2 linked regions of the Homo sapiens genome follow. The protein of the gene in region 1 purifies or fractionates together with the protein of each later gene. This does not show direct contact. Each region holds a gene or a part of one and is shown in the gene's direction. Other genes may lie near its edges.

What was found.
Region 2: the proteins of PGCKA1 (region 1) and STK26 purify together in Homo sapiens (affinity purification with mass spectrometry; 3 studies listed by BioGRID and IntAct, with this or other methods). This does not show direct contact.

What each region holds. Positions count from the first base shown.
Region 1 is NC_000004.12:37,582,866-37,586,686, forward strand, and holds part of PGCKA1 (PDCD10 and GCKIII kinases-associated protein 1), read left to right. Parts: intron 1-1,367; exon of another isoform or gene 1,368-1,523; intron 1,524-3,438; exon of another isoform or gene 3,439-3,821. UniProt on the Homo sapiens protein: Acts as a tumor suppressor. Acts as a tumor suppressor for colorectal cancer cell proliferation by targeting KEAP1/USP17/ELK1/CDK6 axis.
Region 2 is NC_000023.11:132,071,485-132,075,305, forward strand, and holds part of STK26 (serine/threonine-protein kinase 26), read left to right. Parts: intron 1-783; coding exon 784-877; intron 878-1,328; coding exon 1,329-1,391; intron 1,392-1,472; coding exon 1,473-1,609; intron 1,610-2,650; coding exon 2,651-2,675; 3' UTR 2,676-3,821. UniProt on the Homo sapiens protein: Serine/threonine-protein kinase that acts as a mediator of cell growth. Modulates apoptosis. In association with STK24 negatively regulates Golgi reorientation in polarized cell migration upon RHO activation.

The sequences.
Region 1 (3,821 bases):
TCACCCACTAGTCCTACCATCCATTGATACTTCTTACTGACATCAATTATTATTATGATGGCTATCAAATGGTTTTTCTATTATTATGATGGCTATCAAATGATTTTTCTAGTTCCAGTATTTCTCGTATGTTTGTTAGCTGGTTTCCTACTTGTAAGGTAGAGTGTTCCCTTTCCCTTTATGTATCTTAGTGTGGACTCATAAGTCCTTGTTTTATTCAATTGGCTACAAATGCTGTAGATTAGTAATTATTTTAATATTCCAGTTGTTCCACATTTGGCCAGTAAAACTTCTACAAGTGGATTCCTGTGTCCTTTTAAAATGTCCCTGTCATTCTTCAAAGCTATCACTATTTAAAGGCAGCTTCCAGATGGGTTGAGTCTTTTCCTATATGCCCTTGACTTCCTAATGAATACTCAGTTAATTTCTCTGCCTGGCTGGAGAACTCCTGGGCTTCCCTGGACTTCGCCCTTCCCCTACCTCCATTGCTACCCTCCCAGCAAGGAGGCTTCACCAATGACTGACATGGCATTAGCATGGCCTTCTTTTTTTATTGTTTGTTTGTTTTTGTTTTTGTTTTTTTTTTTTTGAGACGGAATCTCGCTCTGTCGCCCAGGCTGGAGTGCAGTGGTGCGATCTCGGCTCACTGCAAGCTCCGCCTCCCAGGTTCACGCCATTCTCCTGCCTCAGCCTCCCGAGTAGCTGGGACTACAGGCGCCCACCACCACGCCCAGCTAATTTTTTTTTATTTTTAGTGGAGACGGGGTTTCACCGTATTAGCCAGGATGGTCTCGATCTCCTGACCTCGTGATAGCCTGGCCTTGTTTAAACACAAAACAGAGTCAGCCCCCAACACAGGGCTGCAGAAGCAGGCGGCAGCAGCATTGGGTGGACACAGCCATCCTAATGGTGTTTGTTTTTCCCCTGTGTAAACTAAGAAGTGGTTGTGAAGGATTTTCCCTTTGTTGCCTGTTGCTTTTTTATGCTCCAAAGAGGAAGCAAATTTTGATTTTGCTCAGTAATAAAGGGTACCCAACAACTGAATTCTTACCTTTAAGCTAGCTGTTGCCAAAAGGGAGGCAAGGAAGACAGCTGATAGACTGCTCATTTTGAACCCAATCTTACGTCAAAAGAGCATATTTTTTTCATTGCTGTGTGTCACATGCTAGACCCGGAGCATTTCCTTGTTGCCCCTGGGCTTAGGAGAAGTCCTTGCTAAATGCAAGATGTAGAAGTGGGAGTGACATATGAAAAAAGAAATGAATTAAATTTGATATGACACATCATATAAGGAAGAATAATTGTAGACACAGGCATGCAGGGGTTGGGTGTGAGTACATTAGTCCCCACCCTTTTCGTCAGCAGTCACACAACCTTGGACATTAGAGCCTGTCCGTCTGATCTAGAGAAGGAATGTTGCTGGGGAAGGAAAACTCAGGGCGAGGTGAGAGAGGACAGAACCTCTAACCAGGAAGAGGCTGTCCCCGCCAAGCTCCGGAGAGGCGCGGAAGCATGACCCTCAGGTATGGGACCAGGTCTATAGGAAACCCATGTGGTGTGCCCTAATGGGAGGCAAGCCGGGGAGGACCCAAACTGGAAACCTGATTCTGAAAGAGGAAAACCACCACAACATCCTTTGTAATTGTGCAGCTTGGAAGAACAGTATAGATCCTGTGGTTTTCCTGGGGAAGGAGGGGAGCCTAAAAGCCGCAAATGATGTATATTTCCTTCAGAAGCAGGGAAGGGGCAGTTTTCGAGTACGGCTGTTAAATCTCAGCACTCACTTCATTCGGTGCAGGCTGCTCCTGTGGTCTTGGCTATAGCAGCAGAAGGCGGGGATGGAGGGTGCCCCAGGGTCAATCTTGGTCAGCCTCCGAGGAGCTGGGAGTGCAAGGTGTCACTCTGGATGTGCCTGCCTGCTTTTCCTCGCCTTCTTGCCCTCCTTCGCCTTTCCTCCCTCTTTTCTTTCCTCCTTTCTTTCGCCTTCCCCTGTACACCTCTTGAATTCACCATCATAAAGTTGACCTGAGATGTTTCAATGAGTAATGTTTTATGATTGCTTCAGTTACATTATTACAATCCAGTCTGCCTTCCTTGTTTCTCAAACAGTTCTAAGCTCTTTTCTCCTTTTCTTTGACTTGTTTTTTTTTTTTTTTTTACTACCTATCCTCCTGACTAGTTGTTGTTGTTTGTTGGTTGGTTTGCTTTTAAAGAGTCCAGGATAAACAAAGTATTGCAGGCATGAAAAGGGTCAGGATTTCAGAGCGAATTGTGGAGGGGGAGGGTCAGGAGGGGAGGGGAGAGGAGGGGAGAGGAGAGGGGAGGGTGGAGGAGAGGTATTGAGGGAGGGGAGGGGAGAGGAGAGGTATTGAGGGAGGGGAGGGGAGAGGAGAGGTATTGAGGGAGGGGAGGGGAGAGGAGAGGTGTTGAGGGAGAGGAGGGGAGATCAGAGGTGTTGAGGGAGAGGAGGGGAGAGGAGAGGTGTTGAGGGAGGGGAGGGGAGAGGAGAGGTGTTGAGGGAGGGGAGGGGAGAGGAGAGGTGTTGAGGGAGGGGAGGGTAGAGGAGAGGTATTGAGGGAGGGGAGGGGAGAGGAGAGGTGTTGAGGGAGGGGAGGGTAGAGGAGAGGTATTGAGGGAGGGGAGGGGAGAGGAGAAATGTTGAGGGAGGGGAGGGGAGAGGAGAGGTGTTGAGGAAGGAGAGGGGAGAGGAGAGGTGTTGAGGGAGGGGAGGGGAGAGGAGAGGTGTTGAGGAAGGAGAGGGGTGAGGAGAGGTGTTGAGGGAGGGGAGGAGGTGCACGTGCTTCTTCTCGCCTGTCCTATTTATCCAGCTCATCTATGAATTATCAGCAGAAAAGGAAAGTAAAGGAGGAGTAGAGGCTGGGAATAAAATCCTGGGCTTTAGAAATGGGGTAGTTTAAGAGTATTCTGAAAGGTACAATGTTACACATGTGTACACAGTTCCATAGCAAAAGCGATTTTTCTGTCTACGGGACTGTTGTTGTACTTGGGGTTTTCTATCTTTCAATTGGTGTCACAGTTGATAGAAATATACCATGTAGCCCTTATTCCAGAAACAAGTCCTACTTGACATTGTTAATACTCTTGTTTGTATGCATAGGTTCTGGCAACTAGATTATATCTTTCTTGGATACTAGACCTCCATCTTTTTCTTTTTGGGGGGTGTGTTTTAATATGCTGTATCCAAATGGGGTGGTTAAGACACCCCTGGTCTATGTTTATTATGAATGTTTGCTCATATGACCCCCAGCAACACTATATAGTAGGAATATTATTATCCCCATCTACAGGCCAAGTGACTGAGGCCCAAAGTCCCACAGTAGCAGGGTTTTCTGTCTCCTGAGCCCACCCTCATAACACCTGGGCGACACGGCTGGCACAAACTGGAAATGTCTTGATTGGTTGCAGACACACAACAGGTTCACTGATAGTGCTCTCGTTTTTAATCCATAGCCATTAAATCATTCATTCATTCCACATTTATTGACTGCCTGCTCTGTACCAGGTGCTGTCCTAAGTGCTGAGAATTAGACTTGAAGAAGGGTGGAGCACGGTAAGGAAAGAGGGTGGCAAGAGATGCACGGCTGGTCCGAGGGACTCTTCTACATTCCATGAGTCCTCCCAGGAAGAGTTGGAAGGACAAGGGGTTTGGTCCTCAAGCATGAAGTGATTTGGGGATGTTACTAGTTTTCTGTGCTGCTGCAGCAAATTACTACGAACTTAGAGGTTTAAAAAAATGGAAGCAGCCGGGCATGGTGGCTCACGCCTGTAATCCCAGCACTTTCAGAGGCCAAGGTGGATGG
Region 2 (3,821 bases), on another chromosome or scaffold:
CAGGATTCAATTAAAGGTGTTATATTAGTTTGCTCAAAGTAATAAGGAGCTGTGTTTTCTCATACTTTGATGGCAACCTGCAAAATCCCTCTAAAGAACTGACCTCCAGGCTTTTCCCACCTCTTGGCCATGTACCAAACCAAGATCAGACTGATACATTTAAATATTCATTTATGCATGATTTTTATTTCTTGAAAAAGTTGTAGGGTTTTATAACAGCAGCGTTTACATTAAAAATTCAGCCTCTAAGTCTGTCAATTAATTTAGACTAGGAAAGTCTGTATGCTATGCCAGAATTTAGTCCTCCACCAGCTGAACTGGCACAAAGGCAACACCAAATTTCTTTAGATACTACTCTGAGATTCTTCCATTTATGAGAAATTGTCCAATGTTGGAAAGGGATAAAAAATATCAGAATAATTTGTGCCCTATTCTAATGGGTGTTAGCCTTAGCTTCCCATAAGAGTCACTCATGGAACCTTAAAGCAATCACAAGCCACACCACTGGAGATCCTGATTCAATAGGTGGGGAGTAGTGAGGGACAGGTATTTATCTATGGTAGGAGGTCTCAATGAAGCACACACAGAGTTGAGAACCACTCCACTACTACTCTGTAGTAAAATGTAGTATTCGCCTGAAGCTGAGATCAGATGCTTTTTTGCATCATGAGTTTTTAAACATTGGGACAATTATCCCTTTAGATTCTACCTGCATTGATTTGGTATTTTTGCCAAGCTGAATCATTTGGGCACTTATAGAGGTATCTTTGGCAATCTCTTTAGGGAATCTACCAGCAGGGAAAACAATACTCATCCTGAATGGAGCTTTACCACCGTACGAAAGAAGCCTGATCCAAAGAAAGTACAGAATGGGGCAGTATGTATATGGAGACAATTACTTACTCTTCATACAGTTTTTCAAACCATGTAGTGAGATGATAATGGCCTAAAATTGTTAGGATTGAATACCCCTAAATGCCTGTCTGCCTCACTGTGTTTGTAGTATGCTTCATTTGTCATTAGTTTTGAGCTAATTAAGAAAAGTTAATAGAAGTTATTTAAGTGGCCATATTGGTATTTTTTAAGTGCATTTCACCTGGAGATACATAAGCCCAGGGAATCATAGGTATCTATTGTAATCCCAGAAGTTAGAGGACTTCTGGATGATGAATGAGAATGAATGATAGGAAGAAAGCTTAGAGACTTGCCTTGCATACAATCTTTTGTTTTCAGTAGGGGATTCAAATTAGTTCGTATTTGTTAAAGAATAAGAAAATCATGACACTTATTTTAATTTCATGTGTATAATCTATATTATTTGTTCAAAGGAGCAAGATCTTGTGCAAACCCTGAGTTGTTTGTCTATGATAATCACACCTGCATTTGCTGAAGTAAGTACAGATTAATTAGCCTTGGATATCTGTGTTAAGTAGTATAATATTTTAAATGTTTTAACTATTATTCTTTCTCAGCTTAAACAGCAGGACGAGAATAACGCTAGCAGGAATCAGGCGATTGAAGAACTCGAGAAAAGTATTGCTGTGGCTGAAGCCGCCTGTCCCGGCATCACAGATAAAATGGTGAAGAAACTAATTGAAAAATTTCAAAAGTAAGTTGGAAATGTCATTTTAAAAATTATTTTGCATTTTCTGTTGTATGTTAATTTATGATGCAATGTAATTCCTTTGATTCAACCATTCCAATTATTCCTAACAAAGTCACCTTTCAATACATAGTTGTATACTTAAAAATAGTTTTTGTCTGTTGTCTATCTTAAACATTAGCTTTTAGAATGATTATCTTTAGGCATGACAAGGTAGTTTTCCACTGCATGAAATGACCTGTTTTTCTTTCTCCACTAGTAGGATTATAGACAAAAGGTCACTGAGCATATTCTCATTTGAGCTCTTATTAATATAATTGTGGAATGCTTTCTTTCTTGCCACTACCCTCAGAATTTAACAAAACACCACTAGTTGCATAGTTTCCAGTGCTAAAGTTCCTACGTTTGATCTCCATATGAAAAGTTAAGGAAAAGGTAGAGGGACTCAATCCAGACCAAAAAAGGGCTCTTATGTTCAACTTCAGTTTCTATGTTGTCTCTTGAAATATTCATTTGATTTTGTTCGCATTCAAAAAAGTTCTTACATTTAATTTTTTAAAAAATTTTCAACAAGACTTTTGTATGCATGCACACATATACACTCCTTAGCTCAAGCAAGCTATAAGGTGATACTGATTTTAGCCTTGACCCTGCTATATCTCTTCTCAGTGCATCTTTATATTTCTTTGTGTTTGTGATGCCACTGGGATCGAGATGGAACAAACTCTGTGACCTGTGAAATCACACACTCTCAAAGATCTTTCTATCTGATAAGGCTCACTTGTACTCGCAAACCTAACCCCCTCTTAAAATCCCTTATATTTTAATGAAAACCCCCCATTTGAAAACAAATCAATCGGAAGTTGTGAAATCAGATGCAGAAGGGATTTTTTAACTTGTTTATATTTTAACATCTACATGATAAGATTCAATAGAAACAATGTATCCCTTTTGTGGAATCAGTTTCTTCATTGCAGAGTTCATACAAAGGAGAAATATAAACATGCATAGTTGTACATTGGTTTAAATTTTTTAAAAATTTTATAGGTGTTCAGCAGACGAATCCCCCTAAGAAACTTATTATTGGCTTCTGTTTCATATGGACCCAGAGAGCCCCACCAAACCTACGTCAAGATTAACAATGCTTAACCCATGAGCTCCATGTGCCTTTTGGATCTTTGCAACACTGAAGATTTGGAAGAAGCTATTAAACTATTTTGTGATGGCGTTTATCATTTTATATTTTGAAAGGATTATTTTGTAAGGAATAACTTTTAATACTATAGTTTCACCTGTATTCTAGTAAATGTTGAGACACCGTTTTGCTTTTAAGTATCCCTATTTCTTAAGTTACGAGGATGAATACCTTTCACATTTTGATCTTTAGTTGACTCTACAGTCATGAAACATACAGGTCTTTCAAAGTCATTCTCAATATTCAGCTTTTGTAAATTATCAAGCTTCAAAAAGCTTTTTTTTTTAAAAAAAAACATGCATATTCTAAAAATGACTATTGGTGGGGAGGTGTAAATAAGTCATACCTTCTTAAAACAGAAAATTTAAGTAAAGTCTTTTAAATGAAACCTGTAAAAGTATTGACTCTTCTACCAAGTTGGTATGATATTCCAGGCAGCTCAATGATTATCACATTTGAGACCCTGTGTTTGAAGCATTTACAGGCAATGTACAGCAACAGAGGTACCTCTTGGTGTATAGTATTTACATTCTCTTTTAGGTAGAAGAGGCAATTTTACCCTTATTTCACATGGTTAGAAATTTAAAGCAAGATCATTTACCCAAGGATAGGTGTTTGGTAATGTTGAAGGAGTTAGTCTGGCTTCATGTTTTACATCTTCAACTAAAATCCCATACTATCTGCTTGGATTTGGAGAGCCAAAAAATAAAGCTGATTGTCATGTGATTAAATATCTGATCAACAGGTATGAATATAACTTAAATCAGCATATTTTTGCCATGGTAATAAATTGTCCTATAAACTATTTATATATTTTTGTTCTTCATAATTATCACTAATAAGCATCAGTTTGTTGTTTTTAAAAGGATATTTAAGTGAGCATTTTCTAGTTCATATGAAAATAACCATAGTACAGGATGATTTCTGTCCACACAAAGGTTAAATTAGATTGCACAGTTAATTTTCACTTATATTTATGGTACTATTATGTGGGTGATGCCTTTTTCTTTTAAGCCCAGTACA